Linked DNA regions of Homo sapiens. The gene in region 1 interacts genetically with each later gene. Each region holds a gene or a part of one and is shown in the gene's direction. Other genes may lie near its edges.

Evidence for each region.
Region 2: changes in EGFR (region 1) and UQCRC2 together harm fitness more than expected from each alone (negative genetic interaction), as found in Homo sapiens cells (one large-scale study listed by BioGRID).
Region 3: changes in EGFR (region 1) and INTS1 together harm fitness more than expected from each alone (negative genetic interaction), as found in Homo sapiens cells (one large-scale study listed by BioGRID).
Region 4: changes in EGFR (region 1) and FBL together harm fitness more than expected from each alone (negative genetic interaction), as found in Homo sapiens cells (one large-scale study listed by BioGRID).
Region 5: changes in EGFR (region 1) and DCAF7 together harm fitness more than expected from each alone (negative genetic interaction), as found in Homo sapiens cells (one large-scale study listed by BioGRID).
Region 6: changes in EGFR (region 1) and XPO5 together harm fitness more than expected from each alone (negative genetic interaction), as found in Homo sapiens cells (one large-scale study listed by BioGRID).
Region 7: changes in EGFR (region 1) and RCC1L together harm fitness more than expected from each alone (negative genetic interaction), as found in Homo sapiens cells (one large-scale study listed by BioGRID).

Annotation. Positions count from the first base shown.
Region 1 is NC_000007.14:55,154,853-55,159,091, forward strand, and holds part of EGFR (epidermal growth factor receptor isoform a precursor), read left to right. Parts: intron 1-977; coding exon 978-1,094; intron 1,095-1,680; coding exon 1,681-1,807; intron 1,808-1,906; coding exon 1,907-1,980; coding exon of another isoform or gene 1,981-1,991; exon of another isoform or gene 1,992-2,087; intron 2,088-2,810; coding exon 2,811-2,901; intron 2,902-4,239. UniProt on the Homo sapiens protein: Receptor tyrosine kinase binding ligands of the EGF family and activating several signaling cascades to convert extracellular cues into appropriate cellular responses.
Region 2 is NC_000016.10:21,956,361-21,960,599, forward strand, and holds part of UQCRC2 (cytochrome b-c1 complex subunit 2, mitochondrial precursor), read left to right. Parts: intron 1-874; coding exon 875-958; intron 959-1,056; coding exon 1,057-1,206; exon of another isoform or gene 1,207-1,224; coding exon of another isoform or gene 1,225-1,257; intron 1,258-2,174; coding exon 2,175-2,239; intron 2,240-4,239. UniProt on the Homo sapiens protein: Component of the ubiquinol-cytochrome c oxidoreductase, a multisubunit transmembrane complex that is part of the mitochondrial electron transport chain which drives oxidative phosphorylation.
Region 3 is NC_000007.14:1,472,986-1,477,224, reverse strand, and holds part of INTS1 (integrator complex subunit 1), read left to right. Parts: intron 1-306; coding exon 307-431; intron 432-567; coding exon 568-655; intron 656-769; coding exon 770-996; intron 997-1,153; coding exon 1,154-1,277; intron 1,278-2,386; coding exon 2,387-2,520; intron 2,521-2,864; coding exon 2,865-3,057; intron 3,058-3,531; coding exon 3,532-3,659; intron 3,660-4,040; coding exon 4,041-4,153; intron 4,154-4,239. UniProt on the Homo sapiens protein: Component of the integrator complex, a multiprotein complex that terminates RNA polymerase II (Pol II) transcription in the promoter-proximal region of genes.
Region 4 is NC_000019.10:39,836,083-39,840,321, reverse strand, and holds part of FBL (rRNA 2'-O-methyltransferase fibrillarin), read left to right. Parts: coding exon 1-89; intron 90-1,116; coding exon 1,117-1,287; intron 1,288-2,478; coding exon 2,479-2,611; intron 2,612-3,653; coding exon 3,654-3,766; intron 3,767-4,239.
Region 5 is NC_000017.11:63,587,977-63,591,860, forward strand, and holds part of DCAF7 (DDB1- and CUL4-associated factor 7), read left to right. Parts: intron 1-1,023; coding exon 1,024-1,196; 3' UTR 1,197-3,884. UniProt on the Homo sapiens protein: Involved in craniofacial development. Acts upstream of the EDN1 pathway and is required for formation of the upper jaw equivalent, the palatoquadrate. The activity required for EDN1 pathway function differs between the first and second arches.
Region 6 is NC_000006.12:43,565,904-43,570,142, reverse strand, and holds part of XPO5 (exportin-5), read left to right. Parts: intron 1-1,405; coding exon 1,406-1,432; intron 1,433-2,788; coding exon 2,789-2,974; intron 2,975-4,239. UniProt on the Homo sapiens protein: Mediates the nuclear export of proteins bearing a double-stranded RNA binding domain (dsRBD) and double-stranded RNAs (cargos). XPO5 in the nucleus binds cooperatively to the RNA and to the GTPase Ran in its active GTP-bound form.
Region 7 is NC_000007.14:75,052,933-75,057,171, reverse strand, and holds part of RCC1L (RCC1-like G exchanging factor-like protein), read left to right. Parts: intron 1-447; coding exon of another isoform or gene 448-467; exon of another isoform or gene 468-659; intron 660-1,097; coding exon 1,098-1,271; intron 1,272-4,239. UniProt on the Homo sapiens protein: Guanine nucleotide exchange factor (GEF) for mitochondrial dynamin-related GTPase OPA1. Activates OPA1, by exchanging bound GDP for free GTP, and drives OPA1 and MFN1-dependent mitochondrial fusion. Plays an essential role in mitochondrial ribosome biogenesis.

The DNA of each region.
Region 1 (4,239 bases):
AATTATGAGGGGGAGATTTTACCCTGCCAGATTTGTGTACATGAAAAATTTTACATTCCGTATGGAAAAAAAAAACACAAAATAATAAGCCATTATAAGGTAAATGACAAACAAAGCTAAAGAAAAATGTGCCACAGTGATGACACAGATATATCTTTGAGATAGGGCTTAACAGAGCTTTAAAATCCATAGGAAAACACTTCGAGCCTGAGATACCAAGAGCAGATGGTTCACAGAAGAATCATCAATGTCCTATAAATATTTTTGAGGATCTTCTTGGGGAACTTAAAACAGGAACAGGCCAGGCACAGTGGCTCATTGGCTCATGCCTTTAATCCCAGCACTTTGGGAGACTGAAGGGGCTGGATTGTCTGAGGTCAGGAGTTTGGGACCAGCCTGGCCAACAGGGTGAAACCTCGTCTCTACTAAAAATACAAAAATTAGCCGGGCGTGGTGGCGCACGCCTGTAATCACAGCCGCTCAGGAGGCTGAGGCAGGAGAATTGCTTTAACCCAGGAGGCGGAGGTTGCAGTGAGCTGAGATCACACCACTGCACTCCAGCCTGGGTGACAGAGCAAGACTCCATCTCAGACAAACAAAAAAGGAAGACATAGAGCTCCTAAAAATAACGCAGAAGTCTGCTATTAATACAAATGAATTACTTTAAAGGTGAGAGCAGGTGGAGGAGAGGGCTGAGGTGCCTGCTGGGACGCAAAACAGCTGGCCCCTCAAGGGACCCAGTGTTTCCTGCCATGATGAAACACCTGTATTGTCCACATTGCGGCCTAGAATGTTATTAAACTCTTGAACGGGATTCCTTCTCTATTTGCAACCTTTCATTCTTTGTCCTTAAAGTAAATAAAGCCAAAGGAGGATGGAGCCTTTCCATCACCCCTCAAGAGGACCTGGACCGCCTGTGTGAGGCCCGAGCACCTGGTGCCACCGTCATCACCTTCCTTTCATGCTCTCTTCCCCAGGTAATTATGTGGTGACAGATCACGGCTCGTGCGTCCGAGCCTGTGGGGCCGACAGCTATGAGATGGAGGAAGACGGCGTCCGCAAGTGTAAGAAGTGCGAAGGGCCTTGCCGCAAAGGTAGGAAGCCCGCCGGTGTGCGGACGAGGCTTGTTCTCGGCTGCTGAGGCTGGGCTCTCATGCCACCTCCAAAGGAACACATCTTCCTCTTCTCATTAAAAAACAACTATACATATCGTTTCTTTAAAACAGAAGATAAAGCTGTAAAGCTAGGTTAGGCAATGGGAAGGCACTGAAGGTTGTGACGGGGTGGGGGGCTCTGATGAGAACAGTCACAGAGCCAGCCCCGCTCAGCAGCTGCCAGGTGCCCAGCCCTGGGGAGAATCCAGGGAAGGCAGAGCTGGAAGCAGTGCAGCTCCAAGCGGCCCATGGGAAATAATGAGGAGAACGCAAGGTCAGTGTGAGGTGACAGGGATGGCATCTCCTACACCGCCGTAGCCCCAAAGTGTACTATAGGTCCTGGTGTCCCCCCTTCCCGCCTGCACTCTCCCCAGCCCCTTCAGTGTTTGTTGAGTGAATGAAGGATGATGTGGCAGTGGCGGTTCCGGTGACCGGAATTCCTTCCTGCTTCCCTCTGCCTGTGGATCCCTAGCTATTCTTAATCCAACAAATGTGAACGGAATACACGTCTCTCTTATCTCTGCAGTGTGTAACGGAATAGGTATTGGTGAATTTAAAGACTCACTCTCCATAAATGCTACGAATATTAAACACTTCAAAAACTGCACCTCCATCAGTGGCGATCTCCACATCCTGCCGGTGGCATTTAGGGGGTGAGTCACAGGTTCAGTTGCTTGTATAAAGAAAAACAAAATCTGCCTTTTTAACTGGTAGAGATTGGTGATCAATAATCACCCTGTTGTTTGTTTCAGTGACTCCTTCACACATACTCCTCCTCTGGATCCACAGGAACTGGATATTCTGAAAACCGTAAAGGAAATCACAGGTTTGAGCTGAATTATCACATGAATATAAATGGGAAATCAGTGTTTTAGAGAGAGAACTTTTCGACATATTTCCTGTTCCCTTGGAATAAAAACATTTCTTCTGAAATTTTACCGTTAATGGCTGATGTTTTGATATTTTTCAAAAGTGCAGTTTCTCCTGCAGGCAAAAGGGGACACGTTAAGTCCAGGCTTGGGTCATTCACTGCGGTGTAAACACGCTTTCTCCCTCCCGCCCGGCCCCAGCCAGCTGCCTTGGTGGCCCATAACCCCTGAGGGTAGAGGGAGGGGACAGGGGTAGGTGACAGGCAGCCTGGGCCTCAGGCTTTTGAAACTGGACGCCAGAGCCTTGTGGGGCCACGGGCAAGCCTCGGGTCTATGACTGCCGCCTGAGCTCCGCTTCCTTCCTCTCTAAAATGGGAAGATTAGACCAAAATAACAAGACTGTTTTAAGGTTGGAATCAAATAAGGAAAATTTGTAAAGCTCCTTGTATGTGATACCAGATCCACAATTGGCAGATAATCGCAGCAGGAGCCTCTTCGGGGTAATCAGATACGCGGCGCAGCAGGGGTCTCAGGGCCACAGCCAGGGGGGCGGCGGGAGACATGCGGAATCGCAGCGGAAGGCGGGAGGCAGCTGTGAACTGTGGCTCGGCCTGCGTCCGCCCTGCGCATGTACACTCAGAGAAGATGATAATGAAAAAGAAAGCAAATCCAATTTTCCCACTTACTGTTCATATAATACAGAGTCCCTGAGAGTCTAGAGTAATGTCTCATACAAAAAAGAAACTCCTACGTGGTGTGTGTCTGAAGTCTTTCATCTGCCTTACAGGGTTTTTGCTGATTCAGGCTTGGCCTGAAAACAGGACGGACCTCCATGCCTTTGAGAACCTAGAAATCATACGCGGCAGGACCAAGCAACAGTAAGTTGACCACAGCCAAAGCCTGGTAGATTACATTTGCCTTTTTAGTTGGAAATTAGGCTTAACAGGAGAGTTGCTAAGATAGGGCACAGAGCTCCTGCATCTCTCGCCGGCATTCCCAAATGCTATCTCACATGAGCAGGCACAGGGAGCAAGACTGCACGACCACTGGCACAGGCTGTCCGCTAAACCACAGACTTCTCAGCGCTCGCCAGTGCTTCTGCTTCTGTGTCCACTCCAGATCCCACATTGCACTTAGTTGTCAAATCTTTTCAGTCCATTTCTAACCTATATTAGCTCCTGTGTCTTTCCTTGTCTTTCACGGCCTTGACACTTACAAAACGTGTGGGTCAGGTACTTTGCACACTGTCTAACCATGTCTGTTCAGCTGGTGTTTTCTCAGGATGCAATTGAGGTTATGCACATCTTATCACAGGGACCAGAGAGACTTTTTAGCACCACTCTTCAAGAATTTCCACTTTTTCAGCTTTGACAGTGGAATAGACATGCAGGTGCTCACACACAAGCATCTTTAATATGGTAATGGTAATCATCAGTTTAGTGGTGTGGAGGAGGAGATGGGAATCTCTTAGTGAAACCCGCCTTGGAAGCAGCCTCGTTATGAGAACTGCTGCCCCTACTTGACTCTTAAAGCACTAGATAATACTGTGCAACATTAAAGAGAATAAGAGTGCGTGAAATATGCATTGCCTCCCATAAACTCCCTTGGCTCTGAATCTCTGATACTAAATATGTGGCTACCGTTGCTTCCCAGAAAGGCCTTTTTGCTCTGAATTCTCTGGAATGCTTTCTTTGACCAAGATTCTTATAAAAATAAGAGATTTAGAGCAATTTTCTTGGATGGCTGGTATGAGCCAGTTGGCTTAGTTGTAGGGATTTAAACAAGATAAGGGTTACTTACTTTTCACATTTAATGAGAAGTCTGGTGATTCCAGCTCCTACTGAGACAGGGTGGCCACACGTTCCAGGGTGTGACTCACTGAGGCCCCAGACCTGCCCTGCAAGGAAAACCTGGCTCTGCCCTGGTGTCCTGGCCTCCCTGGGCATATGTGGGGGAGAATTCCTAATGGTATTGGTTACAGGCTCCTATGCGAGACCACTCATCTGTGTAGGAGAAAGGAAAAAGATGGGGGAAAGAAGAGCAGCAGGGAGAGGAGAAGCCTCTGGATGATACTCTAACCCCCTGCCATCCAACACCTGAACATCAGTCTCTTCATCCAGTGCTCTCAGCTGGCCCAGCCCCCAGCCTGGGGTCAGATGAGAGCTTCCTGCAAATGCAGATCTCTTTCCTGTGGCTCCTTCTCAATTACAGACAGC
Region 2 (4,239 bases), on another chromosome or scaffold:
GGGTGAAACGCCATCTCTACTAAAATACAAAAAATTAGCCAGGCGTGGCAGCATGTACCTGTAATCCCAGCTACTTGGGAGGCTGAGACAGGAGAATCGCTTGAATCCAGGAGGCAGACATTGCAATGACCCGAGATCGCACTGTTGCACTCCAGCGTGGGACACAGAGCACGACTCCAACTCAACAAAAAAGGTTGTGGATGGGGTGATCTGACACTTTTTCAAAAAATGCCAAAGCTTTAGAACTACACAGAACCATGAAACTTTTATAAGGTAACTGAAAGATAAGAAAATACAGTGATTCTTTACATCATTTAAAAAATAAGCATCAAGAACTCTATAAATCACTAATAAATAGAGGTTTAAGAATGGCTTGGGTAAACTGGTGGGTTAGTAAGTCCATAATAAGTTATGCAGCTAGGCGGGGTGCAGTGGCTCACGCCTGTAATTCCAACACTTTGGGAGACCAAGGTGGGCAGATCACTTAAGATCAGGAGTTCAAGACCAGCTTGGCCAACACAGTGAAACCCCATCTCTACTAAAAAATACAAAACAAAAACTAGCTGGACATGGTGGCACGCACCTGTAATTCCAGCTATTTGGGAGGCTAAGGCAGGAGAATGGCTTGAACCCAGGAGGTAGAGGTTGCAGTGAGCTGAGATTGCGCCACTGCACTCCAGCCTGAGCGACAGAGAGACACTCTGTCTCAAAAAAAAAAAAAAAATGTTATGCAGGTAAATCCTCCCATGGAGGTGGTTATTGCTCCTTCCACCCCCGAACACCCTCTGTCGCTTGGGTACCCTAAGATACCATGCTTTTATATAAAGCACTGTTCTTGTGAGAAATACGTGTAACCTGTGTTTTTTATGTTTAGAGATTTTATTCCCTCAAAGTTGCCCCCAAAGTTAAAGCCACAGCTGCGCCTGCAGGAGCACCGCCACAACCTCAGGACCTTGAGGTTAGTCCCACTAACTTGCTCGCTGGAAGCTATACATGCCTTACTCTCCTTGGTAATACGAAGACATTCATTATATCTCTACTTTATTTTAAATACAGTTTACCAAGTTACCAAATGGCTTGGTGATTGCTTCTTTGGAAAACTATTCTCCTGTATCAAGAATTGGTTTGTTCATTAAAGCAGGCAGTAGATATGAGGACTTCAGCAATTTAGGAACCACCCATTTGCTGCGTCTTACATCCAGTCTGGTGAGTATCTTCACTTCCTCAAGTGTTTGGAAATGCTGTGGTATCTTGGTCCTGTGAAAAAGAAAAACTAAGATCAATGTCTTTATATTTTGATTCCTTGACCTGCCATAACAAATTACCACGGACTGGGTAGCTTAAACCAAATAAGTTTATCCTGTTACAGTTCTAGAGGCTAGAAGTCCAAGTCAAGGTGTCTAAGCCAAGCCAAGATATCAGCAGGGCTGTGATCCCTCTAAAGGTTCTAGGAAGGCACAAATCCTCCCCTGCCTGTTCCTAGCTTCCAGCAGTTGCCCACAACCCTTCATGTTCCTTGACCTGCAACTGCATCACTGCAGTCTCTGCCTTTGTTGTCACATGGCCTTCCTTCTGTCTGTGTCCACATTTCCTCCTGATAAGGATACCAGTTACATTAGATTTAGTGCCCACTATAATTCAATATGATGTCATCTTAAGTACTTAAATCTGCAGAGACCTTATTACCAAATAAAGTAACATGCAAATATTCTGGCTGGACATAAATTTGGGGGGGAACACTGTTAAACCCAGTACTGTCCCCTAATGTAAAATGAGAAACCACAAGATATTTGCCACAGAGAAGCACTAAATTAGTATCCATATGAATGTTGATGTTAGAGCATAAGAAATCAGTAAACAAATTTTTAACAGGAAGTGCCGCAAATTGAAAGAAAATTAACTCTTTTTTTCCCATATACAAGTCTCTTTCAGAATAGACTAATGAATCCAGTAAGCTTGTATTTGACAGTGGAAATTTTACATGAATGTACTTAATGTAAAAATGTATACTTAAGCTTTTTGTTGAGCCTTGTTTTATAATTCTTAACTAAAAAGGATGCAGGAATTTAGTAAAATTCTTTTTAAATCTGCTCACAACAGATTTTGATATAGTGTGATGTTTGGCAAACTTGGCATTGAAAAGCTACAAAGATAATCATTCTTTCTTTTTCAAGACGACAAAAGGAGCTTCATCTTTCAAGATAACCCGTGGAATTGAAGCAGTTGGTGGCAAATTAAGGTTTGTTAAATAAGTAATAGAAAATAGTGAAAATGCCAGAAAATATTCAATTTTAAGGGAACTTTTCTCTGTTATCAAGGAGGTTGAGGATTTCTTAAGCAACATAAGAAGGAAAAGACTGATGAATTTGAGTATATCAAACTGTAAAACATCTTTATGTCTTAAAGTAAAAATTTAAGTAACTGTCTGGGAGTAGATATCTGCAATATATAGGCATACCTCAGAGATGTTGCAGGTTCTGTTCCAGACCACCACAATGAAGGGAATATTGCAGCAAAGCAAGTCATAGGAATTTTGTGGTTTCCCAGTGCATATAAAAGTTATGTTTACACTATACTGTGGTCTACTAAGTGTACAATGACATTTTGTCTTGGAAAAAAAGTACATAACCTTAATTTTAAAATATTTTATTGCTTTAAAAATGTTAACAGTTATCTGAATCTTCAGCAAGTCATAATCTTTGCTGGTGGAGGGTCTTGCCTCCACGTTAATGGCTGATGACTGATCAAGGTGGTGGTTGCTGAAGGTGGTGGTGACTGATAATTTCTTAAAATCAGACAACAGTGAAGTTTGCTGCATTGATTGACTCTTCCTTTTGTGAAAGACTTCTCTGTAGCATGAGATGTTGTTTTTAGCCGTTTACCCACAGAACTTCTTTCAAAATTAGTCAGTCATCTCAAACCTTACCACTTTTTTATCAACCAAGATTATGTAATATTCTTTTTTATCATTTCGACAGTGTTCACAGCATCTTCAACCAGGAGCAGATTCTATCTCAAGAAACCACTTTGTTTGCTCATCCATAAGAAGCATCTCCTCATCTGTTCAAGCTTTATCATAAGATTGCAGCCATTCAGTCACATCTTCAGGCCCCACTTCTAGTTCTCTTGCTACTCCCACCATAGTTGCAGTTTCTTCCCCCTCTGAAGTCTTGCCTCTCAGAGTCATCCATAAGGGTTGGAATTGGCTTCTTCCAAACTCACGTTAATGTTGATACTTTGACATCCTCCCATGAGTCACAAATGTTCTTAATGGTGTCTAGAATGGTGAATTCTTTCCAGAAAGTTTTTTAATTTACTTTGCCCAGATCCATCAGCGTCTTCACTATCTGTGGTAGCTGTAGCCTTACAAAATGTATTTCTTAAATAATAAGACTTGAAAATAAAAATTACTCCTTGATCCATGGGGTGCAGAAGGGATGTTCTATTAGCAGGCATGAAAACAGTGTCAATCTCCTTGTACATCTGCATCAGAGCTCTTGGCATTGTTGCAGTAATAATTTGAAAGGAATCTTTTTTCTGAGCAATGGGCTTAAAATATTCAGTCAACCATGCTATAAACAGATGTACTATCATCCAGGCTTTTTTGTTCATTTACAGAGCATAGGCAGAGTAGATTTAGCATAATTCCTAAGGGCTCTAGGATTTTGAGAATGGTAAATGACCTCATCCTAAAGTCACCAGCTGCATTAGTCCCCAACAAGAGTCAGCTTGTCGTTTGAAGCTTTGACGCCAGGCATTGACTTCTCTAGCTACGAATGTCCTGGACGGCATCTTCCAATGTAAGGCTGTTTTGTCAGCATTGAAAATCTGTGGTTTAGTGTAGCCACCTTCATCGATGATCTTATGTAGATCTTCTGGATAACGTGCTGCAGCTTCTATATTAGCATTTGCTGCTTCACTGTGTACTATTATATTAAGAAGATGGCTTCTTTCCTTAAAGCTCATGAACTAACCACGGCTAGCTTCAGACTTTTCTTCTGCATCTCACCTCTCTCAGCCTTCATATAATTGAAGAGAGTTAGGGCATTGCTCTGGATTAAGCTTTGACTTAAGGGAATACAGTTTGATCTAATCCAGACCAGTAAAACTCTGTATTATCAGCAATAAGTCTGTCTTGCTTTCATATCATTTATGTGTTCAGTGGAGTAGCACTATTAGTTTTCTTCAAGAACTGCACTGGTGCAAGAGGCCTAGCTTTTGACCTGTATCCGTTTTTAA
Region 3 (4,239 bases), about 54 Mb from region 1:
GTGGCCAGGAGAAGGGAGGGCAGGTGCTGGGCTCCCCACATCCTCCAGGGAGGGACGGCCTCACCAGAGAGGCTGCATGGAGCCCCGGGCACCTCCGCTGTGTGGCATGGCTCCCGTGGGAAGGGGCGGGGAGATGCAGCGCAGCCACCAGGAGCGGCCCTCCAGCACCATGACGGGGCCGGTGTTACCGGCAGCACCCCAAGCCTCGGCTCTCTGAGTGGCTCATTGGGGAAGCTGTCAGCTGACTTCAGCAGAGCCTGCCATTGGCCCAGGTGAGGCCATCCGGGCTTCTTCCTCCCTCCCCAGGGCAAAGGTCAGGCCCAGGTGCCCTCGTTCCGTCCCTACCTCCTGACCCTCTTCACGCATCAGTCCAGCTGGCCCACACTGCACCAGTGCATCCGAGTCCTGCTGGGCAAGAGCCGGGAACAGAGGTGGGCGCCTCCCTGTCCCCAACCTGGGCTGCGCGCATACTGGCCTTCACCAGAAATCTCCCAGCGCCGGCTCTGACTGGTATCTCCCATGCTGAGACGAGACACCTCGTGCTCTGGAACCTTTGCCTCCCCACAGGTTCGACCCCTCTGCCTCTCTGGACTTCCTCTGGGCCTGCATCCATGTTCCTCGCATCTGGCAGGGGCGGGACCAGCGCACCCCGCAGGCAGGTCTTGGGAGGGTGGCCCATCCGGGAGAGGGGGTGGCCCATCCGGGAGAGGGGGTGGCCCATCCGGGAGAGGCGGTGGTGCTCCGGGGCTGATGCAGGCACCCGTTACAGAAGCGGCGGGAGGAGCTGGTGCTGCGGGTCCAGGGCCCGGAGCTCATCAGCCTGGTGGAGCTGATCCTGGCCGAGGCGGAGACGCGGAGCCAGGACGGGGACACAGCCGCCTGCAGCCTCATCCAGGCCCGGCTGCCCCTGCTGCTCAGCTGCTGCTGTGGGGACGATGAGAGTGTCAGGAAGGTGACGGAGCACCTGTCAGGCTGCATCCAGCAGTGGGGAGACAGGTGCTCAGGCCCCCCGGCCCCAGATGCTGCCTGGGAGTGAGCCATGGAGGGGGTCGAGGCCCAGCCCTGGGTGGGTTCCCATCACGCCTGGTCCCGTCCACCCACCCCTGTCACTGGGGCCCCGTCCGCCTGGTGAGCCCTGCTCCACCTCTTCCAGCGTGCTGGGCAGGCGCTGCCGAGACCTTCTCCTGCAGCTCTACCTACAGCGGCCGGAGCTGCGGGTGCCCGTGCCTGAGGTCCTACTGCACAGCGAAGGGGCTGCCAGCAGCAGCGTCTGCAAGGTGAGGGCGCAACTCTGCCGCTCCCCGCCGCCGTCCCAGGTGCCCTGGCCGGGCAGGGAGGGAGGGCGGAGGCCACAGTGTACATGGCCATCGCCGGCTACCCCTCTTGCCCCTTCCCAGTCCGCGCCGCCCTGTGGCCCTGTGGGTTTGTCTGCGTTGAGTTTTATACCGAGGGAGCTTGCGGGTGCTCTGCTCGCACAGTCTGGAGAGTCGTGGTGTTGTGGGCACTGGGTGGCCTGCCATTGTGTGGATCGGCCGTTGGTTTATCTGTTCACCTGCTGGTGGACGTGGGGTCACGTTCAGTTTGGGGCAGTGACAGCTGCTGGGGACTCGTGCCCGGGTCTTGGCGGACGGCTGCGTCTGCTCCTCTCCAGTGACCCTGGTGGGGAGAGCTGGGCCTCCCGTACCCGCTTCCCCACCGCAGGCCGGAACCTGCAGCCTGTCTTCTGCTGGTACCACAGAGGGCAGCTGACTTTCTCTAATCATTTCTGCTTGTGGTTTTTTTCACTTATATGTCATTTTATTTGTTGAAATCACACTTGATGTGCAGTTTTGTGGAGGGTTTTTGAGGCAGGGTGTCTGTTGCCAAGGCTGGAGTGCAGCGGTACCATCATAGCTCACTGCAGCCTCAACCCCCTGTGCTCAAGTGAGCCTCCCACCTCAGCCTCCCGAGTAGCTGGGATCACAGGCACGTGCCACCACACCCAGTTACTCTTTTTGTATTTTTGAAAATAGAGAGGGCTATTTTCATTGCCCAGGCTAGTCTTGAACTCCTGGGCTCTGGTGATCTTCTGCCGCGGCCTCACAGAGTGCTGGGATGGCAGGCGTGAGCCACTGCGCCTGCTTGGCCGATGTGTAGTTTTGGCTTGTTTCCCGCTCATTGTATCATTTGGTGTGGAGCTTTGCTTTTATTCTGTATGGGGTTTTCCCAGAGGCTGGCTGTGGCCTGCCTGCCCTCCCGAGGTGCTCATGGAAGCCGTAAGGAGCCAGTTCCTCTGCTCATGGCGTGCCACGCGGTGGATCACGGCCACAGCTGGCGGCCAGGCTGAGTGTGGGTGGGCAAGTGAGGGGAGCCAGCGGCCCCGGCCTCAGAGCGCCCCTCCCTGCAGCTGGACGGACTCATCCACCGCTTCATCACGCTCCTTGCGGACACCAGCGACTCCCGGGCGTTGGAGAACCGAGGGGCGGATGCCAGCATGGCCTGCCGGAAGCTGGCGGTGGCGCACCCGCTGCTGCTGCTCAGGTGCTGTCCCAGAAGCCCTGCCCTCGCCAGACACTGGTTTAACCAGGGGGGTCTGCGGCTCTCCAGCCTGGGCAACAAGAGCAAAACTCCAAAAACAACAAAAAAAAGCATGTTCCCATGGGCTGAGCTTGACCGGGGGAAGTCAGGACTGAGCTGGGCCTCAGGTGGGAGGAGCTGGGTGGGCCTCAGAGAGGGGCGATCTCATCCCCACCTCCTTAGGGCAGGAGGGTGGTTGGGGGGCAGCACGGGGTCTGGCTCCCGGGGCAGGCAGTGGGGCCTTCCTGGGGACGTGCGCCAGGTGAGCCCGCCGGCCGGGGCTGACTGGGCCCTCACCGCGCCCGCAGGCACCTGCCCATGATCGCGGCGCTCCTGCACGGCCGCACCCACCTCAACTTCCAGGAGTTCCGGCAGCAGAACCACCTGAGCTGCTTCCTGCACGTGCTGGGCCTGCTGGAGCTGCTGCAGCCGCACGTGTTCCGCAGCGAGCACCAGGGGGCGCTGTGGGACTGCCTTCTGTCCTTCATCCGCCTGCTGCTGGTGTGTGCTCCCGCCGCCCGCCCTCGCGCTCCCTTCCACTCCCTCTGCTCTGGCCCAGGCCTGCCTCACCCACTCGCGGAGGGACTGGGAGGACCTCTGCAGCCAGGGCCCAGGCCAGGCCACCTGCCCTGGGGACCAGCTCCCACCCTGGGAAGCCCCTGCCTGCTGCCCCTCACGTGCCTGGGGGGCCCACGTCCTTCAGAAGCCCAGCCCAGACCCTCCGTGCTGTTCTCTGCGTGTCGCTTGTGCTACCTCGAGCCCCTCATCCATCTGGGCACATGCCCCAGACAGCCATGTCCACACCCTGACAGGCCATGCCGGCCACCCTTGGGCCTGTGACGCCCCAGTGGTTGGCAGAGGGGGCTCGTTGGCTGTGGGGTCCATGCCCTGAGGCTCTGGGAGCAGATGGGAGCACAGGCTCTGTTTTGGCCCTGCGGGGCAGAGCAGCTCGAGGGTGCCGCTTTTGCTTTGCAGAATTACAGGAAGTCCTCCCGCCATCTGGCTGCCTTCATCAACAAGTTTGTGCAGTTCATCCATAAGTACATTACCTACAATGCCCCAGCAGCCATCTCCTTCCTGCAGAAGCACGCCGACCCGCTCCAGTGAGTGCCCACGGGCTGCAGGGAAGCCTCGGGCCTCCGGCGAGGGTCCAGCGGGGTCTGGAGGGTGTTCCTGGGAAGGCCGTGTCGTGTCAGATATGCTGCTCCTGAGGCCGGGGAGGGCTGCTGAGCGTGGTGCTCATCCCAGGGCGCAGAGGCCGCCCCACCCTGTGCCGAAGCCGTCTGAACCCACCCCTGCAGCTCTCTGGCTCTCTGTCCCGTTCCACGCACATGTGGCTTCCCCGCCCGGCCCTCCCTCTGAGCGTCCTGGCCTCTCCTGCATGCCTGTGTCCACACGCTCCCATGCCACCCTAGTTTGACCCCTGACCCAGCCTTCCTCCTGCCAGCGTCTTCCTCCCAGGTGAAAGCATCTTCTCTCCCCAGCGACCTGTCCTTCGACAACAGTGACCTGGTGATGCTGAAATCCCTCCTTGCAGGGCTCAGCCTGCCCAGCAGGGACGACAGGACCGACCGAGGCCTGGACGAAGAGGGCGAGGGTGAGTGGGGCTGCCAGGGGCTGCTGGAAGCAGCTGCGGAACAGTCCTACAGGGCCTGGTTTTCCCAGCGCACAGCCAGCCCTGGG
Region 4 (4,239 bases), on another chromosome or scaffold:
TCATTTGTCGAGGAAAGGAAGATGCACTGGTCACCAAGAACCTGGTCCCTGGGGAATCAGTTTATGGAGAGAAGAGAGTCTCGATTTCGGTGAGAACTGGGCCCCTGTCCAAGCCACCAGGGTCGCAGCTGAGGGTGTAGCCAGTAGTCTGTGTCTGCCCTCACCATGTGTCCTGCACGTGACAGCTGGAGGATTGTCATAATATGTAAACCACACTGTCTGCTCCCTCATCCGCCTTCTGTGACTCCCCACGGCCTTCCAGTTAGACTCCTGAGTCTTCACTCAGGCCTCCAAGACCCTGTGCATTCCAGTTCCCCCTCCCTGCCCCCTGGCTTTGTCTCCTTCACTAACTCTCTGACCAAGTGTCCTCCAGCCACCCTGGCCTTGCTGTTCCCACTCCCAGCTCTGTGGGAGGCTGCGTCCTTATCATCTGCTTCTCCAGGCTGCGTCACACCACTCTGCGGGTCAAGGCATCCCTCACCGCCCTCCCCTGTCCTGTTATCCTGTGTCATTTTCTTTGAGGCCAGGGTGTGCCTGCCTTGGGGCCTTCCTAATCGCTCTCCCTCTCGTGGGAATGTCCTTCCTCAGATAACTTGAATGGCCCCTTGCCTCCTTCAGGTCTGATTTGGAATCTGCCTTTCAGCCCCTCCCTGGCCCCTTTTCCCATTTTCACCTGCTCCTTGCCCTGCTTCCCAAACTCCGTATCTTCTCTCCTGGCTTTGTCTTCTCTCCTTAACACCTGTCACCATCTCATATGCCATGTTGTATTTAGTTAGTTCGGTGAATACTTACACCTTCTGGGCAGGGATCCTTGTTTTGTATCCCCAGCGCCTAGAGCAGGGTCTGGCACACAGTAGGTGCTGGCACAGTGCATGTTTGTTGAACAAGTGCTGGTTTTACTGTTACTGTTTGTGTTTATTCTCTTTTGCTGCCCTTTGGGTCAGTCACCTCCATGAGAGGGCAGCGACTGCATGTGCATGGTCACTGCTCTTTACTCATGTTGAGTTCTTGTGCAGTGATAGGACAGCCCAGTTCCTTTCAAGGCTCCTAGGGTTAAAGGCAGTGAGGTCCTGCAGAAGAGCCTAGCACTGACTTCTGTCCCCATCTCTCATCTAGGAAGGAGATGACAAAATTGAGTACCGAGCCTGGAACCCCTTCCGCTCCAAGCTAGCAGCAGCAATCCTGGGTGGTGTGGACCAGATCCACATCAAACCGGGGGCTAAGGTTCTCTACCTCGGGGCTGCCTCGGGCACCACGGTCTCCCATGTCTCTGACATCGTTGGTCCGGTGAGTGAGTAGATGGAGAGTCAGGCAGGAGGTAAAGGCTGCCTCCCTTCTGCCAACCTGGAATATCAGGGTTTGACTGCTTGCCTGCGCTGTGTGACTTAGGGCCAGGCCCTTTTCTGTCACTGTGCCTGTGAGTAAAAGGAGTGGCTTGAACCAGATAATGTCATTCAACCTCACTCCTGGGTTCTTGGCCTCAAGGGAAGAGACGTGGGTGTGGGGTGACCAACCTTAGAGAGACAACGGGGAGTATAGATACCAGACTATTTGATTTGATGGGCCTCTTTAAAATTTTATGCTGCTAAAACCTGCTCTTCTGGTTTCTTTAGAAAGAACCAGGAGATCTTCATGGTTTCTGAGCCTGTATAGGCTTCCCATTTAGAGGGCCCCTGGCACCCACGTGTCCCACTCTGTTACCCTTTGTTACTTTATGTGTTTATAAGCTGTTAAGTGTAGTGCCTTAAAACCTCAGGCTTTGGCCAGACGAGGTGGCTCATGCCTTTAATCTCAACACTTTCGGAGGCCGAGGCAGGTGGATCACCTGAGGTCAGGAGTTCGAGACCAGCCTGACCAATATGGTAAAACCCCATCTCTACTAAAAATACAAAAATTAGCTGGGTGTGGTGACGTGTGCCTGTAGTCCCACCTACTTGGGAGGCTGAGACAGGAGAATTGCTTGAACCCAGGAGGCGGACGTTGCACTAAGCTGAGATCGCACAACTGCACTCCATCCTGGGCAACAGAGTGAGACTCAAAAAAAAAAAAAAAAAAAACCTCAGGCTTTAATCAGGCAAGTTACCTAACCCATCCAAGCCTCAGTTTACCTGTCTGGAACATAGACTTGTGAAGATTAAATGAGTTAATTTCTGAAAGGTGCTTAGAGCAGTGGTTGGCCCATTGTTACATCATCTCTGTGCCTTGGCTTCCTGGTTTTAAGCCTCTGTTGGGAACCTGGGCTCTCAGGCAGATGGGATTGGGTACTTTTGCTACTTGCTGAATAACTCTTGGCCAGTGACTTTATGTCTGGACCTCAGTTTATTCATGTGAAAAATGGACATGATAGCAATAGTCATTAGATGGTAGGGTTTTGATTTGGGGGTTGGAAGAGATGCTGTGTATAGTGTATGGGCCTAAAGTAGGCACTCCATGCATGAGAACTAGCATCACTGTTCATTAATTTTTAATTTATTTTAGGATGGTCTAGTCTATGCAGTCGAGTTCTCCCACCGCTCTGGCCGTGACCTCATTAACTTGGCCAAGAAGAGGACCAACATCATTCCTGTGATCGAGGATGCTCGACACCCACACAAATACCGCATGCTCATCGGTGAGGGGTCTGGGGGTGGCCCCGGTGGGGTAGGACAGGCCACCGCAGGCTTCTGGAAGAAGCCAGTGGATCTCTGATTCGGATGGAGTTGGAGTGGATGAGCAGACCTCTTGAGTCTGCAGGAATAGAAAGGGGTAAGGGGAGCTAGGTGAGGTTGTGGAGGTGGCAGCTTGGCTTCAGAGTCTTGGAAGCCACCCTTGGAGGGCCAACCTCTTCTCCTTCAGTCTCCTCCCCATCTCCTAGGTCTCCTGTACTTCCTGCCTCTTGTATTTATTACACTACCCCTCCATAAAAAGCCTCCTTTTGGGGGTCCTAATCATTGTCTGGTGAGAGCATATCCCAGAAAACTAAGCATGGCTTGATCTGGAGGGGCCCACTGTGAATATTAATTACTTTGTTTAAAAAAACATTCAAAGATATAATATAAAAGTTGAAAAGCCTTATAAACCACCGCCAGAAGTAACTGATGAGAACAATTTGATGTCTGCTTTTCCCAGGTTTTAAATAATCAGTTTTCATTATACCACCTTTTCATTTTTTGAAAAGTCACACTGGCTTAAAAACATTATTTTTCATTCTGCTCCTTTTTCTTTCTGTGTTTTATTTTTCCCATGCACTCATACCATCCCCTTTGTTCTGCAACTTGTTTTCATTTCACAGTCCTGCGGACACTCTTGCCTATAAGTGCTCACTCACTCTTACTTGTCTTTTTGATGACGTGTCTGTCTCCCCACCAGACCTGGGAGCGTCTCGAGGGCAGGGTCCGGGTCTGACTCGTCTCTATGTCCCCCACGCCCGGCCCAGGGCTGGCCACAGAGTAGGTGGCAACCATGGTTTACAAGAAGAGTGGATGAATGATGTGACTGTGGGTTTTGGACTCATCTTGGGACACTGGAGGGAGGGGGACCAGTGGAGGTGGGGAGTGAAACTGGAGGCAGGGAGAATCTCCCAGGAACCTGCTGGTGATGGGCATAGGCCCCATGGGAGGATCTGGGGTGATCCCTGTGACTCCAACTTTTAACTGCTGCTCCTTTCTCCTTAGCAATGGTGGATGTGATCTTTGCTGATGTGGCCCAGCCAGACCAGACCCGGATTGTGGCCCTGAATGCCCACACCTTCCTGCGTAATGGAGGACACTTTGTGATTTCCATTAAGGTGCGGGGTTTGGAAGAGTCTAAGATGGGGTGGCAGTGTTCTAGGGAGGTATCTTCTCTATCTGTATCTGTCAAATAGCCACCCAAAACAGAGGGGCCAAGTCTGCAAAACTATAGCTTTGGATTTAAAGAGGCAGGAGAGTGCAGCGGTCAAGTGCAAAATTGAGTCTGACCATCTGAGTTTAATCCCAGCCTGCTGTGTGACTGAGCAAGTTACTTAACCTATATGCCTCAGTTTCCTCACTTATGAAATAGAAATATTGTCTAGTCTTTTTCAGGGTAGATGACAGGATCAAATTAGTCAATATAATATGAAGTGTTTAGAAAAGATCCTGGCATAGAATAGATACTAGATAAAAGCTAGGTGCATCTTTCACAGCATTTTTATTTGGAAATAATGGAGAACTCTCCCATGCACCCTTCACAAGGTTCACCATTTGTTAGCCTTTTGCTACATTTGTTTTATTATTCTCA
Region 5 (3,884 bases), on another chromosome or scaffold:
CTCCATTTAAAAAAAAAAAAAAAAAAAAGTAATATGAGCACATTACGAATCACTTAGGAACTAGAGAAAAGTAAACATAAATCCTAACCTTGCCATCTTAGTATTGCCATCATTCTCATTTTAATATATTTCCTTCTACTTATTTTTCATGTGCTTTTATATATTTAAAGTGATTACCATCTTTCTGGTGTTTCCCATAGCTATTTTCTTGGATTTTTTTTTTTTTTTTGAGATGAAGTCTCACTCTGTCACCCATGCTGGAGTGCGGTGGTATGATCTCGGCTCACTGCAACCTCTGCCTCCCGAGTTAAAGCGATTCTCCTGCCTCAGCCACCGAAGTAGCTGGGATTACAGGTGTGTGCCACCACACCTGGCTAATTTGTATTTTTTTTTTTTTTTTAGTAGAGATGGGGTTTCACCATGTTGTCCAGGCTGGTCTTGAACTCCTGACCTCAGGTGATCCGCCTGCCTCAGCCTTCCAAAGTGTTGGGATTACAGGTGTGAGCCACCATGCCTGGCCAGGAAAGAATTTTTTAACAGCACATATCAGCACTACTTTATCAGTCTTCTATATAACACCTCACTGAAGCATAAATGTCCATCAAACAGGGAAGAAACGCTCTCATTATATTGAATGATCAGAGAATGATCTTTGTAACCACTCAAGTATTTTAAGTGGCTGCAAATGACATGTTTGGTATCCCCTTGTCCACTCCTGATACCTGACCCAGATGAGAAGGACTCATTAGTGCAGTGGATAGAGCCTGGGGACATCTGGGAGATGGAGTCAGGGCCTAGATTTGAGTTCTGGCTCTGCCACTCACTTGGCTGAATAGCTGTGTGATTTGGAACAAGTGCCTTAACATTTCTGAATCTCGATTTCCTCATCGATAAAATGGGGGCTTAAAATAGAACCGCCATCACGGGGGTGCTTTGTAAACTGTGACTTGCTCCTGAAATGCAGGGATCATCATCCGCATTGCCTCACTTGTGACCTTGCTTGCTGGCTTTCTTTGTCCCTAGCGGATGACCACCAGGCTCTCATCTGGGACATCCAGCAAATGCCCCGAGCCATTGAGGACCCTATCCTGGCCTACACAGCTGAAGGAGAGATCAACAATGTGCAGTGGGCATCAACTCAGCCCGACTGGATCGCCATCTGCTACAACAACTGCCTGGAGATACTCAGAGTGTAGTGTTGGTGGCGCTGTGCCCACGAGGCAGGGGCTTTTGTATTTCCTGCCTCTGCCCCACCCCCAAAGTAAGAAGAAACATGTTTCCAGTGGCCAGTATGTCTTTCATTGCTTTGCACCCACTGTTACCAGAAGCTGCTCTAGGAGTTCCTGGCCAGTCACCCCATCGCCCTCTGTGGCAGACTCAGTGCTGTGTGGCGCCTCCTCAGCCCAGGGCTGAGTTTTAAGATTTTCTCTCCTTTCCTCTTCTCCTTTGGTTCCTCAATTAAAAAATGTGTGTATATTTGTTTGTCAGGCGTTGTGTTGAGGAGCAGTTCACGCACTGGCTGTGTCTATTCCTCTGCCCAGGTGTCTCTGTTTGCTGCCCAAGGCAGCAGTTCATGTCTCGTCCATGTCCATGTTCGTGTTAGCACTTACGTGGGAACAAATACCAATTTGTCTTTTCTCCTAGTATCAGTGTGTTTAACAAATTTTAACTTTGTATATTTGTTATCTATCAGGCTAATTTTTTTATGAAAAGAATTTTACTCTCCTGCTTCATTTCTTTGTCTTATAGTCCTCCCTCTTTGCACCTTCTTCTCTTCCCTCAGTGCCTGGAGCTGGTACTGGGCCCCTGGCCCCATGAGCAGTTTGCCTTCTTGAGTCACTGCCTGTGTAGTACATACCTGACCGGGAGTCCAAACCACCTTGGTGCTCTGAAGTCCACTGACTCATCACACCTTTCTTAGCCTGGCTCCTCTCAAGGGCATTCTGGGCTTGTAAACAGACATAGGAAGCCTCTGTTTACCCTGAAGCACCACTGTCCAGCCCATTGGTTCCCACTGGCAGCATGGTAGAGCTGAGAGAAACAGGCTCTCAGGGTACCTGACTTGAGGGGAATCGTTTCATGAAGCTGAACTTCAAGCATATTTCCAGTACATTCTTTCAGAGTCTGTTTTTCCATCCAAATATAAGCCCCAGGCCATTCCACTTAGTGTCTTTTCAATGATAGGCAAGAATGATATCTGAGTTGAACTTCGGTGCTTCTGTTGTTTGAGTTTACTGTGCCTGGTGGTATATTGGGCATTCTTTGGATTGAGTGTTCTGAGGTGAGAGAGTCTTCCCGAGGCATCCTGTCTGTGCTTCCAACCCTGAACAAGACCTTACATGAGAGATGGACTGATGGACTGCGGCAATCCTGGGCTGTCAAGTGGATAGATAGTTAAAAAGCATTATACTGTGGGTAATGAAAAGGGAGGAAAAAAAAAGAAGGAAAAGGAATTATAGACCCCCAGGGTCAGCCAGTTAAGAGCTCTACCCACACCTGTCAACCCCTCTCTCCCCCAGTTTAGGTTCTGAGCAGTATTGGACTTGTAGCCTGCAGTTGTCTTTTGACTTGCAGGCCGCAGGTGTCTTTCTGTTATGTGAATGAGTTCCATGGAGGGGCATATGTGTGATTCCACCGTTAGATGAGCCCTTGGGGCAGGCAGTTTGGGATGTGCTCTTGGGGGAAAGTTGGCTGTTTCCTTGCGCTCTGCTCCTACCCGAAGGTTTTTAAGTCCCTCTGAATTGCTCATCTGAGATTAGTAGAGTAGCAGGCCTGAAGGATGATGGTTTTGTCCTCTTTGGTTCTCACCTGCTTGAGAAGTAAAACAGTAACTTTGTTCTTCTGGGCCCTTAAGCTTTTTTGGTTAAGTCTTCCTTTTCAGAAGTAGATGTCATTATATGCCAAAAGTCTAGCTCTTTGCTTTACCATACAGGGACCTGTCCCAAAGAAAAAGGCTCTTTTTTTAGCCAGCATATTTCCCCTTCTACCCTTTTACTTTGTTGTTCTGATTTTAGGACTCTGGCTGGCCATGTGCTTGTGGTTGCCTCTCCTGCATTTGCCACTGGATTTGCACTGCATCGTTTGGAGATACAAAGCGAGCAGTTCTTGGTCAGAACCCTCCTCTGCTTTTCATTGTGTTTGATAATGGTTACTGGGTCCTTCTCTCAAGGGTAGCAAGGCCAAGCTGATGGCTGCTTGTTTAGGAGGCCATCAGTTCCTTCCTGTGGAGAAGGGTCTGAAATGGAAGTCAGTGGTAGAAGGGGCTGGTCTGCTGGGCAGGGCTTACATCCACTGAGTTCTAAGATTCCTTTCCTGATCTGCACCTACGCCTGGTCTGTATGGTGGAATTTGTCAGCTGGAACTCAGAAACAACAACTTGAAAAAAAAATAATAATTAGAACATATTTGCATAAGATAGCTATTTACTCTGGAAACCAACAACTTTTGAGATTTCCCTTGCCCTGTGGACGCCCAGCTCCTGTCATCCTTCCTTAGGTCCTGCAGTACAGTCTTCCCCTGAATGCCACCGGGGACCCAGGGGGACTCCACCCCCCTAAGCAAGCACACACATACTCACAGTTGATGAGTTGCTGGTCTTTGAGTCCCAGCTCTCTTACCCTCCCTTTACTCCACCAGCCCGACGACCCATGACTGAGGAGGGGATTTCTACAGTCTCAGGATTTAGAAAGTCTGTAAGCCATCCATGCTCCAGAAAGCACCGATCTGTTGTAGTTGCAAAAACAACTCTGTAATTTGTTGAGGTTCTCAAACTGACAGCCAGCGAGACTGGGTGGGAGGCCCTGGATCTGTTCTCCCTGACTGCGGGAGGAGCAGCCACTAGGACTTTAGCAGGAAGCCCACATGGAGGCTCCGCCAGGCTGTGG
Region 6 (4,239 bases), on another chromosome or scaffold:
GACGGGGTTTCACTATGTTAGCCAGGAAGGTCTTGATCTCCTGACCTCATGATCCGCCCGCCTCCCAAAGTGCTGGGATTATAGGTGTGAGCCACGGCACCTGGCCTTTTTTAAAAAAAAAAAAAAAAAAAAAAAAAAAGATAGGGATCTCGGCTTACTGCAGCCTCCACCTCCTGGGATTACAGGCATGTGCCACCACACCTGGCTAATTTTTGTATTTTTAGTAGAGATGGAGTTTCGCTGTGTTAGCAAGGCTAGTCTCAAACTCCTGACCTCAGGTGGTCTACCCACCTTGCTCTCCCAAAGTGCTGAGATTATAGGTGTGAGCCACCGAGCCCAGCCCTAGGTGTTATTCTTAATTTTATTTTCAGAAGTTCTTTAGGAAAATACTAATTTTTTTTTTTTTTTTGGAGAGGGAGTCTCACTCTGTCACCCATGCTGGAGTGCAGTGGCACAATCTCGGCTCACTGCAACCTCCGCCTCCTGGGTTCAAGCGATTCTCCTGCCTCAGCCTCCCGGGTAGCTGAGATTACCGGTGCCTGCCACCATGCCCGTCTAATTTTTGTATTTTAGTAGAGATGGTGTTTCACCATGTTGGTCAGGCTGGTCTTGAACTCCTGACCTCAAATAATCCGCCTGCCTTGGTCTTCCAAAGTGCTGGGATGGTAGGCGTGAGCCACCGCGCCTGGCCTAATTTTGTATGCTTGTAAGTTAACATTATGTGCCTTTGTATGGATTTGAAATATAAGGATAAAAATCAACCATATTTGTATATTCACTGAATAGCCACTATTCTGATGTATTTAACATCATATATATATGTATTTTTTTTTGTTGTTTTTTTTTTTTTGAGACGGAGTTTCACTTTTGTTGCCCAGGCTGGAGTGCAGTAGTGCAATCTTGGTTCACTGCAACCTCTGCCTCCCGGGTTCGAGTGATTCTTCTGCCTCAGCTTCCCAAGTAGCTGGGATTACAGGCATGCGCCAGCACACCGGCTAATTTTTGTAATTTTAGTAGAGATGGGGTTTCACCATGTTGGCCAGACTGGTCTCAAACTCCTGACCTCAGGTGATCCACCTGCCTTGGCCTCCCAGACTGCTGGGATTACAGGCGTGAGCCACCACGCCTGGCCAACATCCAGTATTTTTGAGTACATGGTTTTCATATACTTAGGCTATACATACATGTTCATGAATTGTATTCATTTAATTATGCTTCTGACTTTACTTGTTCTCCCTAGGGGAATATCAGTTATGCGTGCTTAGTAAAGTTGTGTTATTTTCCAAGATGAAAAATTGCATATATTTAAGAATCATTATTCAAGGGCATTGATTTGTGGGGGGTAGAAAGTTATTATGTGGCCTTTTGCTCATTAAAAACACTGGATCTTTATACTTCCTTTCAGAAGACAGATACTTCTCAGGAGTCAAAGGTAAGAGCTCTTTATAAAGTTTGAAGGAGACCTTTGAACCTTTCAGGTGAGGGGATACGTGCCCCTAGTGGATGGTGACCTCAGCCTTGCTTGTGTTGTATTGTTTTGGAGACAGGTCTTACTGTTGCCCAGGCTGGAGTGCAGTTGTGTGGTCTCAGCTCACTGCAGCCATGACCTCCCCAGCTCAAGTGATCCTCTCACCTCAACTTCATGAGTAGCTGGGAATATAGGTGCGCACCACCATGCCCAGCTAATACTTTCTATAGAAACAGGGTCTCAGTGTGTTGCCTAGGCCGGTGTCAAACCCCTGGCTTCAAGTGATCCTCCAGCCTCGACCTCCTGAAGTGACTGTGGGCCACTGCATCTGTCGTTTGTTTTTTTTGTTTGTTTTTGTTTTTGTTTTTGAGACGGAGTCTCGCTCACTTGCCCAGGCTGGAGTGCAGTGGCGCGATCTCGGCTCACTGCAAGCTCTGCCTCCTGGGTTCACGCCATTCTCCTGCCTGGCCTCCCGAGTAGCTGGGACTACAGGTGCCCGCCACCACACCCAGCTAATTTTTTGTATTTTTAGTAGAGACGGGGTTTCACCATGTTAGCCAGGATAGTCTCAATCTCCTGACCTCATCATCCGCCCTCCTCAGCTTCCCAAAGTGCTGGGATTACAGGTGTGAGCCACCATGCCCAGCCTGTCCTTTGTTCTGTTTTTGATCACTGAGCTATGGTTGAAGGGAAGTAAAAAAAAAAAACAAAAACAGACTTACTTTTTTTTTTTTTTTTTGACACAGGGTCTTACTTTGTCACCCAGGCTAGAGTACAGTGACGCAAACGTGGCTCACTGCAGCTTCAGCCTCCAGGCTTCAAGTGAGCCTTACCTCAACCTCATGAGTAGCTGGGACTATAGATGCACACCATCATGCCTGGCTAATTTTTGTATTTTTTTGGTTAGGGTATTTTTTTTATTTTATTTTATTTTTTGTTTTTTTGGTAGACACTAGTTTTGCCATGTTGCCCAGGCTGTTGTTTTAACTCCTGGGCTCAGTTGATTCACCCACCTTGGCCTCCCAAAGTGCTGGTATTGCAGGTGTGTGCCACTGCACCCAGCCTTGGGAAGTAAAATGATAAGATTTGGGGTTTTGTGAAAAAGATAAAATGGCCACACATGCCAGTATGGTCTTGTTGTTGGATGTTGAGAATGTCATTGTTTGAGAAGTGATTGTGTTCCCTACCTGTGACTGTTACATGAGTATATTCTTAAAAAATAATTTTCTTAGAATTAGAAAATGGGAGTTCAGTTATAACCACTGATTCCTTACCTGTTACCGAGGACTTCATGGTCCAAAGTTACTTCTTTTCTGGTAGGCGCAAGCAAACTGTCGAGTAGGAGTTGCAGCACTGAATACTCTAGCAGGCTATATTGACTGGGTGTCTATGAGTCACATCACTGCTGAAAACTGTAAACTCCTGGAGATACTGTGTTTGCTGTTGAATGAACAGGAACTTCAGTTGGGAGCCGCTGAGTGTCTTCTCATTGCAGTCAGCAGAAAAGTAAGTTACCACTTCAAACTGACTTATCCTCAGTCTCTGAAGTAGGCTGTGTATGTGTTTAATTGCATGTTGTGGCAGAAAGTCATTTAAAGGTTTGGGTTTTTTTCCTTGGGGCCAACTTACTGCCTGCTTCCAACCCCCTTGGACAGGAGTTTGCCAATATTCAAGGGATCCTTTGGCAGAATGTGGAGATTTATCAGGCTGCATGGTTCTTGAAATAGCCATGATACTTGGCAATTTACAGTTAACAGATAAAAGTAAATGTTTAAGTTTAAAGCTCACTTAATGAATGTCAAGGAATCTTGGATGGTGGCTACAGTAGGTTTATATCTGTCTTTTTTTTTTTTTTTTTTTTTTAATTGAAACAGTCTTGCTCTGTCACCCAGGCTGGAGTGCAGTGGCGTGATGTTGGCTCACTGCAACGTCCGCCTTCCGGGTTCAAGCGATTCTCCTGCCTCAGCTTCCCGAGTAGCTAGGACTATAGGCACACGCCACCATGCCCGACTGATTTTTGTATTTTTTAGTAGAGATGAGGTTTTGCCATGTTAGCCAGGCTCTTCTCGAACTCCTGAGCTCAAGTGATCTGCCCTCCTCAGCCTCCTAAAGTGCTGGGATTACAGGCGTGAGCCACTGCGCCAAGCCTATGTCTGTCTTGGCTAACCAATGGAACTGTGACTCTTTTCTCCATAGGAATATTATCTACAAATGTAATTTACTTTGCTGTCATATCAGCATTATTGCCCAACACATTTATTTATTTATTTATTTATTTTTTGAGATGGAGTCTCGTTCTGTTGTCTAGGCTGGAGTGCAGTGGCGCAATCTCAGCTCAGTGCAACCTCTGCCTCCCGGGTTCAAGCAATTCTCCTGCCTCAGCCTCCTGAGTATCTGGGATTACAGGCGTGTGCCACCACACCCAGCTAATTTTTGTATTTTTTAGTAGAGATGGGGTTTCACTATGTTGGCCAGGCTGGTCTCGAACTTTTGACCTCAAGTGATCCACCTGCTTTGACCTCCCAAAGTGCTAGGATTACAGGTGTGAGCCACGGCACCTGGCCTAATTTTTGTATTTTTAGTAGAGACAGGGTTTCACCATGTTGACCAGGCTGGTCTCGAACTCCTGATCTCAGTTGTTCCGCCTGCCTCGTCCTCCCAAAGTGCTGGGATTACAGGCATGAGCCACCGCACTCGGCCTGCCGAACACATTTAAAAATGTAAGTTTATGCTTTTTCACTAAACTGATAGTTTTGAGAAAAAATATGTAG
Region 7 (4,239 bases), about 20 Mb from region 1:
GTGAAACCCTGACTCTACTAAAAATAGAAAAATTAGCCAGACATGGTGGTACATGCTTGTAATCCTAGTACTTGGAAGGCTAAGGTGGGAGGATTGCTTGGACCCAGGAGGCAGAGGTTGTAGTGAGCCGAGATTGCGCCACTGCACTCCAGCCTGGATGACTCTGTCTCAATAGAAAAAGAAAAAATGAAAAATTAGCTGGGCATGGTGGTGCACACCTGTAGTCCCAGCTACTCAGAAGGCTGAGGCAGAAAGGTCCCTTGAGCCCAGGAGTTCGAGCTGCAGTGAGCTATGATCATGCCACTGCACTGGGCAACACGGTGAGACCCTGTTTCAAAAAAGGAAGGGACTATGGCCATGGGAAGATGGCATTGGATTAGAAGATGGCATTACAGGGTGTGAATGAAGTTCTTAACAAAAAGCGAATAGTCTGCGATTTATCTGTAGATACATGGCCACAGAGCTGAGTCATCCTAGAGCAAACCTCTGGAGTGGAGAGCGAACTACTTCATTCCCCTCCCTTAGCCTGGGCCAGAGAGACTCCAGCTCTGCCTTCTCCAGCCAAAAAATCAAAGGCAGATGGGAGAACAGCCTTCAGCTTTGGATAACGATGAAATATCTGGCACCACTGATGAATATTAAACTTTCTATAACCAAAACATCATTTCTAAGAGTTTTAAGAATCTGGCCAGACATTGTTGATGTGTTTGGCCTTCTGATCAGTGTGAAACACAGAGCTGTCATTAGGGGGAGAAAACATCCTCCAATTCTCTGGTATTCGTATGGGTTTTCTGGATGATTTATACGCTCGTCCCTTCCAGGTTACTAACCCTCAAGATGTGGGAAGTTTGTGTTCTGAGCCAGGAGAGCTGGCGAGACAGACTCCCCCAGCAAGAATTTAAGCAGGGGAGAGAGAATTATTATTCTAAATCTCTGTCTGCATGTTCTTGCCAAGCAAGGAGGAAAAAAACAAAACAAAAAAAAAACAAAAAAAAACCGTGTGGATGTCATAAACCTTGGTGGTGTAGTTTGAGTTTCTGGTGAGGGAGGTTCTTACTTGGATGGACTTACTGACCCTTGTTTTTACTGTAATGTAGGAGAAGGACATGTTTTTGTCTGGGGCTATGGAATTCTTGGGAAAGGTCCAAACCTAGTGGAAAGTGCCGTCCCTGAAATGATTCCACCCACTCTCTTTGGCTTGACGGAGTTCAACCCAGAAATCCAGGTTTCCCGCATCCGATGTGGACTCAGCCACTTTGCTGCACTGACCAGTAAGTTACCAAGCCCGGTGGCCCTGGTGTGAGCCCAGCAGAGGTTCTCTGTCTCCAGTTCAACCCCAAACTGCGGGCAGCTCTCAGGTTCCACCCATCCAACAGAACGGCGCCTTTGTACTGATAACTCAAGCAAGGGCTAAGCCAGAAGTTGTTTGCCTCGAGGTTGTATAATGTCTTGTTTTCCCCCCCTGGAGTTTTAATTTTGGTTCGTTTGGTTTGTGGGTAGGCTAACGTGAACGTGCATTTTCTCAAGAGAGCACCCGTCGGTGGTAGGAAGGGGCATTGCTAGTACGTCGGGTGCTGGAGGAAACCAGCAGAGGCTTGGCGGATCCATGGGTGGGTGATTAGGAAGTGAATGTGTGGGGCTTAATCCCATTCCCTGGCCGAGCCCAGACCCTGATCTGACCCAGGATATGGGATGGCAAAAGGCCGATTTGTCAGACTGTCCCGTGGTTTCACGGAGGTAAATCTACCGATTTCTCCAAAGTGCCGGGGTAGAGAATGATGAAAGGGGAGAGCAAAATGGAGGTTTTTCCCAAAGGCCTGCCAGATTACAAAGCCACAGAATATCCGCTTACCCTGCAGGGTAAGGGTAAGGAATGTGTCCTTTTCTTGGTTACATCTCTTACTCCACCACAGTTACCGTGGGTTCAATTTGCTGCTCTTTAGTTGACTCGAATAGTAAAACTGTCCTGAATTAATTTCATTCTGTGATTCTCAAGTAAATTAGTTATTTCCTTGCAATTAAAAGAATCTTTTCATCTCATGGCAAGTAATTGTTTTCTTTTTAAACATCCAGGCCGGGACAGTCAGTTGGTGTCATCTTTGGTTGAGTTCTCTGGCCTCATTCCCACGTGGGGCCTGTCCCAGATGCTCACCCTCTGTACCAGGGTCCTAACTGCTATTCACTTATTGTCTGAATTCCAGGCTCCAGAGGCCGTCAAACAGGCAGGCCTGGGTTGTTATGGCTGCCAGCTGGAGTTTTATCTGGCTCTAGGCTGAAGCACTGAAGTGGCAGTGGTCATGACTAAGCCAGAGAATTCCTGGCCACTGCCCAGCCAGAGTGGCCACTTGCATTTGCAGCTGAGTGTAGGTCTCATGAATTCTTTTTTTTTGAGTTGGAGTCTCACTCTTGTTGCCCAGGCTGGAGTGCAATGGCGCGATCTTGGCTCACTGCAACCTCCGCCTCCCGAGTTCAAACGATTCTCCTGCCTCAGCCTCCCAAGTAGCTGGGATTACAGGCACACACCACCACGCCCGGCTAATTCAGTGTCATGAATTCTTAAAGCTATTTTGATTTGATAAATAAGAGTCGTATGGACTAATTTTGGGGGAAACAAATATCTACTTTCCAGAAAGTTCTTAAGGCCTCAACTATGGGCAGAGACACATGTTTAGAAATCTGTGTGAAGCATTTGACTAGAGCAGAGGCTTTTCTATTTGCCCTCATGCCATGTAGCCATTTCAGGTCACAGCGAAATGAAATTCCTTTCTGGATTTCTCCCCGAGACTTAACAGGCCTCCTTCTAAGGGTGAGTTACTGCCTGTTGGTAGACAGAGCCTAGCTGTCTTCCTGCCTGTGTGCCTGGCATTTGCAGATAGCCATCTGGGAATTAGAGTTGGTTGGTTTATCCTGTGGTCTGCTAGCATTTTGGGGAGCCAGGCCGAATTGTTCTATTAAACACCTAAGGGCTAGCTGGGTGCAGTGGCTCATGCTTGTAATCCCAGCACTTTGGGAGGCCAAGATGAGAGGATCCCTCAAAGCCCAGGAGTTCGAGACTAGCCTAGGCAACATAGTGAGATCCCTTTTCTACAAAAAATACAGAAATTAGCTGGGTGTGGTGGTGTGCGCCTGTAGTCCCAGCTACTCTGGAGGCTGAGGTGGAAGGACTGCTTGAGTTTGAGAGTTCAAGGCTGCAGTGAGCTATGTTTGTGCCACTGCGTCGCAGCCTGGGCAGCAGAGTGAGACCCTGTCTCAAAAGCAAACAAACACACACACACAAAAACTATCTAAGGTCTGAGTGTGGAGAACAAGGGGCATGCTTAGATCAGGGGCCTAAGACAGCTTGTAATTATTCCGTACTTCATCAGCCCCAGGTCTTGTAGTCCTGGCTTTTCCATGTCACTTCCTCTGCCTCCCATGACCCAAGCCTTTTGCCCAACAGCTGATGGTGACATGGGCCCAGGAGTGCCCCAGCTGGTGCAGACAGAGTCCCACCTGAAGGCCGGGCTAGGAGAGGCCATCTCCTGGGTTGACCTCTTAAACAGCATCTTGTACTTTTTCTTCATGACAGTTTTTACAGTTTGTAAACATATATTAAAATCATCTGTCTGTTCCGTCTCTGGCCAGTCCCCAGCTCCTGGAACACAGACCTAGACCCAGCACAAGCAGGCACTTGGTCATTAGATGCCCTGTGGCTGAATGCTCCCAAGATATGGACAATCAATCCAGGAATGACAAATTGTCTTACTTTTCACTGTCAAATCAGGAAGCCCAGGGTGTCGCCAGGATTTGTGGAAGGCAGAGTTTGGTGGCACACGATTGTGGGCGGGGCACAAGGGGTGAGCAGAGTGGGCCGTGTGCATCAGTGACCTCCAGCCCCGTGCACCACCCCCAGACCCCAGCTCCATGCACCACCCCCAGACCTGTCCACCACCCCCAGACCCCAACTCCATGCACTACCCCCAGCCCTGTCCACCACCCCCAGACCCCAGCTCCATGCACCACCCCCAGCCCTGTCCACCACCCCCAGACCCCAGCTCCATGCACCACCCCCAGCCCCGTGCACCACCCCCAGACCCCAGCTCCATGCATCACCCCCAGCCCCGTGCACTGCCCCCTGCCCCATCTTCATTTGAGTGCTCATCTCCCACGTGGGTGGATGCAGCAGAAGTCCTGGCCGTGGATGTGTTTTCGATATGGGGACAGCATCTCAGACCCTTACTTTTGCCTTCAAAGAAAGCA